Linked DNA regions of Homo sapiens: region 2 is linked to region 1. Evidence: fine-mapped expression QTL. Tissue or cell type: macrophages. Region 1 holds a variant in brackets; the other region holds the start of a gene. All regions are shown on one strand. Distances are from middle to middle.

Region 1 (2,683 bases):
TGGGGAAAAAATGTAGTTGAAGGATTCCCATTACTCCTTTAAAGATATACTATAATGCAACAGTGACTAGGGCAGTGTGGTATTGGTCCAACATGGAATAGAATAGAAAATCCAGAAATATATCCACCCAAATTTCAACAATTGAGTTTTCTACAAACCTGCAAGGCAAGTTAAAGCAAAAAGGATTTTCTTTTCTTTTCTTTCTTTCTTTCCTTTTTTTTTTTTTTTTTTTTGAGAGAGAGAATCTAGCTCTTTCACCCAGGCTGGAGTGCAGTGGCACAATCTCGGCTCACTGAAACCTCTGACTCCTGGGTTCAAGCGATTCTCCTGCCTCAGCCATCCAAGCAGCTGTGAATACAGGCACACACCACCACGCCTGGCTAATTTTTCTATTTTTAATAGAGACGTGGTTTCACCATATTGGCCAGGCTGGTCTCAAACTCCTGACCTCATGATCTGCCCACCTTGACCTCCTAAAGTGCTGGGATTACAGGTGTGAGCTACCGTGCCCTGCCAAGGATATTCTTTTCAAAAAAATTGTGTGAAACAATTGGATATCCATATACAAGAAAACAGTCAAACCACAGTTCACACCCCATACAAAATTTAACTAAATGGAGATTATGGAATTACATGTAAACTCTGAAACTATAAAACTTTTAAAAGAAAATGTAGGAGAAAATCTCCATGACCTCCAGTTAAGCAAAGAGTTCCTATATATGGCAGTATAAACATAATTCACCAAAAATAAAACTGAGAAGTCTTACTTCATAAAAATTTAAAACGTTTGCTCTATGAAAGAAAGAAACTTCAGAGACTAGGAAGAAGACTTGCAAATCACACGACTGACAAAGGACTTGTACATAGAACTCTCAAAATCCAACAATAAGAAGGCAAACAACCGAAGGAAAATTTAATGAGCAGATGATTGAACAGACACTTCACCAAAGAAAATATAGGAGTGTCAAATAGGCACAGGAAGGCACGAGTGGTTCAACACCCTTAGTCACTGGAAAATGCGAATTAAAATCTCAGGGATATGCCACAGCATACCCATAAGGAAGGCTGAAACAAAAACTGACACTACGAAGGACTGCTAATTATTTGGAGGACCTAGAATTCTCATACGTTACTTATGGAAATTAAACA[C/T]GATGCAGATGCTTTGGAAACAGTTTGGCAGTGTTTTGTTTTGTTTTGTTTTGTTTTTGTTTTGTTTTGTTTTGTTTTGTTTTGTTTTTGAGACCGAGTCTCGCTATGTCCCCCTCCCCCAGGCTGGAGCGTAGTGGCACCACCTCAGCTCACTGCAACCTCCGCCTGTGGGTTTCAAGTGATTCTCCCGCATCAGCCTCCCGAGTAGCTGGGATTACAGGCCCGCACCACCATGACCAGCTAACTTTTGTATTTTAGTAGAGAGGGGAGCCTAAGTTCTCATTGCTGTTAGAATGAGATGGCTGGATCATTATTCTAAGTGTACGTATAACATGATAACAAACTATCAAACTGGACCGGGCCTGTAATCCCAGCACTTTGGGAGGCCGAGGCGGGTGGATCACCTGAGGTTAGGAGTTCAACACCAGCCAGTGCAACATGGCGAAACCCCGCCTCTATTAAAAATACAACAATTAGCTGGATGTGGTGGTGGGTGCCTGTAATCCCAGCTACTTGGGAGGCTGAGACAGGACAATCACTTGAACGCAGGAGGCGGAGGTTGCAGTGAACTGAGATCATGCCACTGCACTCCAGCCTGGGCAACAGAGCGAGACTCCATCTCAAAAAAAAAAAAAAATTAGGCACCCCTGTCAAAGTCTTGTCTACTCACTCTGGAGTGGTCCCCAGGTGATCTGATGTGCCTAGGGCAGAGACTTACTTTGAAAATTACTTCTGTGGTAGGAAAAGTCATGGCCTCTGATGCCAAACGAACCAGATTTATCCCCACTCTTCCACTCAGAGTGACCTTGAGCAAGAGAGTTAACGTCCAGTCCATAAAATTGGTGTGAGGATGAAAACCACTTTTACCTGGGAAAGCTAAAATGTCACCTTCTCCCTTCTCAGTGGTCTACTTCTTAATAGGACAAAAACAGTCAGTGTCTGTGGAGTTTGCAGGGCATGCCTGTTCTAGAAAAGTGTCTAACCACACCTGTATCTTACAGGAATATCTGTGCATCTATTGCTATAAAAATAAAATCTCTACTCCAAAAGTCATTTGATGAAGAATAACTCAATTTGTAACTGATAATGATACCTCAAGCCATTAAAGTGCCAGAAAAGAAATCTTACAAACTGAAACAAAACCTTTTAAATTATTTTCTAAAATTACATATTTTTAAAAATTTAAGACTGATTTGAATACTTAACATGCACATTTTGAAGAACACAAAATAATGTTTCCTAAGATGATTTAATATCATGGAAAGATGCTCACAACATATTCTTTTGTGAAGAATCCAGATGGAAAAAGTATATATGAGCTGTAATAGCATGTTTAGGTAGAATTCACATAAAAATCACTATTTCAACCATTCTAAAGTGTCCAATTCAATAGCATTTAGTGCACTCACAGTGTCGTGCTACCTTCATCACTATCTAGGTCCGGAACATTTTCACCATCCCAGGAGGAAACCCCATCCTGATTAGCAGTCGCTCCTCAGTCCCACCTCCCCACAGCTGCTGAAAGCCACCAATC
Region 2 (2,683 bases), 460 kb after region 1:
GGGTGGGGGCTGAGGAAGGAGAATCGCTTGAACCTGGGAGGTAGAGCTTGCAGTGAGCCAAGATAGGGACACTGCACTCCAGCCTGGGTGACAGAGCGACACGCTGTCTCAAAAAAAAAAAAAAAAAGAAAAGAGAATTAATCAAATTGAGCCAGATAGGCTGAGGCCCAAAGCTGTGTGGGGTATGGGGGTGGGACTAGGGGGCTGGGGTGACCCTTTGAGAGTCACAGAGGAAGTGGGTTGCTTTCTGGGAGGGCTGAGAGCAAGAAGAGTTTGTGTGTGCATGTGTGAACACACACACATGCATGTGACTCCTAGTACGTGTCTGAGGTCTGAGGCTGCAAATGTAGTCCTAGGCTCCTGGCCTGGCTGAGTGAGTTTTAGCGGTTTTTTGTTTGTTTGTTTTGTTTGAGACAGGGTCTTACTCTGTTGCCCAGGCTGGAGCGCAGTGGTACGATTTCGGCTAAGTGCAACCTCAGCCTCCTGGGTTGAAGCGATTTTCCTGCTTCAGCCTCTCGAATAGCTGGGACTACAGGCGTGCGCCACCACGCTCAGCTAATTTTTGTATTTTCAGTAGAGTCCGGGTTTCACCATGTTGGCCAGGCTGGTCTCCAACTCTTGACCTCAAGTGATCCATCCACCTCTGCCTCTCAAAGTGCTGGGATTACAGGCCGGAGCCACCGCGCCCGGTCCGACTTTTAGGTTTGTGAATGTTTTAGATCAGAGTCCTGGGGAAGCTTGGTGCATGGGCTTGCATTTGTGCGTCCGTGGCTGTGGGTCCATGAGCCTCTCAGGACGTGACTGGCCTCAGTTTCCAGAGTTTCTGGGAGGCTGTGTTTTTTGTCCCGGCTCCAGAGGTGTCCGGCTCTGGGTGTGTACTGGGGGATGGGGATGGGGTGCGTGGGCGTTCACGAGGTTGGGTGTGCCCGCCACTCCGGGTTCTGCCCGCGTCTCACTGCATGCTCGGCCTGGGTTTCCGAGGGTCCGCGCGTCCCAGGCTGTGCGGGTGGAGGGTGGGCAGGGACCCCGGGAGGCCGGGCGGGGGGCGGGGGCGCGCTGGGCCGGCCCCGGGGCGGGGCGAGCCTTCGAGGGCTGGGGGCGGGGCGGCCCGGCCGCCTCACTTCGGCGAAGTTGGCGGCGCGGAGGCTGGCCCGGGACGCGCCCGGAGCCCAGGGAAGGAGGGAGGAGGGGAGGGTCGCGGCCGGCCGCCATGGGGCCGGGGGCCCGTGGCCGCCGCCGCCGCCGTCGCCCGATGTCGCCGCCACCGCCACCGCCACCCGTGCGGGCGCTGCCCCTGCTGCTGCTGCTAGCGGGGCCGGGGGCTGCAGGTGAGGGGCCGGGACCTGGCGGATGGGACGAGGGCGGCAGAGGGGGAGTGCAAGAACCCCCAAGGCCGGGGCTGGCGGGGGTTCATGGGAGGCAGGAACCAGGGTCGGGGAAGGGGCGCAGGAGCCCCGGGCTTCATGCCAGTCCTGGAGGACCCAGAGATTCAGAATGGGGAGGACCCCAGAGGCCCAAGGAACAGGGACCCTTGAGCGATTAGAGCTGAAGATGAAGGGACCCAGGAGTCCGAGACTGGGAGCTCGAGGTGCGGGGATCAGGGACTCGAGGTGGGGGGGTGCGTACAGAGTTCGGGACTCGTCCCCATCCAACTCACGCCTGGAGTCCTGGGTAGGTTATGATTGGGGGCCCAGGTACTTCTAGGCCGGGGACCTCTCGCACAAAAGCCCCCCCACCCCGCCCCCGACACCCCGGGCGGGCTGGGCCAGGCGGGGGGTGGGGAGGGGGCGCGAAGTTCTGGGAGCTCTGAACTCGGAGAAAACTTCCCAGGCCGGCGCGCAGCAAGACCCGGAGCCGGATTCCGAGCCGGAGCCTCGGCGGCGCGCGCGCCCCCTCCCCCGCCCGCAGCCCGCCTCTCTCCTCTGGCCGCGGGGACCCGGAGGCCCTGGGACCCCGCCCCTGCGCGGGGAGGGGAAGGGGCGAGGGCCCACGTGCTCCCCTTCGGCTCCAGCGCCCCCTCCCCGCGGCCAGAGCCCCTCCCCAGCCGGCCAGGGGCCCCCGCCCCTCCTCCTCTCCTCCCTCCCCTCCCCCGCTCGGGACAATGGCCGCGCCGTCTAGACACCCCCTCCCTCCGGCCGGCCTCGCGCTTTCTTTGCCAGACAAAGCGGGACCCGCGGCTGGGCCGGGGAGGGGGCTGCGGGGGCACCCCCCTCACCGCTACGGGAGGCCTGGTGGGCGGGGGAGGGGCGCGGGCCAAGGCCCCTGGCCAGGGGTCCCAGACGCCAGTGTGGGGCTTGGCGCTGGGCGGGGTGGGGGTTTCGGGAGTGAACGGCCTCCCCAGCCCAGCCCCGGGGCCCGGACGGGGCAGGACCAGGCAGGAGCCGCCGCCTCCGCCGGACCAGCGGCGCACACACATGGCCTGTGACACACTCGCTGGCACACATAGCTCTAGGTCACGTAACAGAGATGCAAACCTGCACACACACAGCACACTCGCAGACTTGCACACCTGGCTCAGGAAAGACACACCCAGCTGCACGCACACAGCTCACACATTGACATACATACACACACAAATATGATCACACAGGTGTGGCACACACGCTGCCTGCACACACTCAGACAGCACATAGATGAAGACTCAAGGACATGCTTACACCCAGCTCACACATGCAGATGGACA

What was found. PIP is the estimated chance that this variant, and not a neighbour inherited with it, causes the effect. A credible set is the group of variants that fine-mapping cannot tell apart.
Region 2: it holds the start of NOTCH3, and the variant in region 1 is the best candidate, but not a certain one, in a credible set for the expression of NOTCH3 in macrophages (Nedelec 2016, PIP 0.67).

The regions. Positions count from the first base shown.
Region 1 is chr19:15,659,823-15,662,505 of GRCh38, reverse strand. It overlaps CYP4F3 (cytochrome P450 family 4 subfamily F member 3), which reads right to left. Exons shown (of 13, transcript NM_000896.3): 13 at 1-2,683. Among named protein-coding and RNA genes, the nearest start is that of CYP4F12, 12 kb to the left of the region's middle. The variant C/T (reference allele first, on the strand shown) is at 1,150.
Region 2 is chr19:15,199,433-15,202,115 of GRCh38, reverse strand. NOTCH3 (notch receptor 3) reads left to right here and starts at 1,121. Exons shown (of 33, transcript NM_000435.3): 1 at 1,121-1,328. The coding sequence starts at 1,211. RefSeq lists enhancers at 237-736, 737-1,238 and a silencer at 1,825-2,051.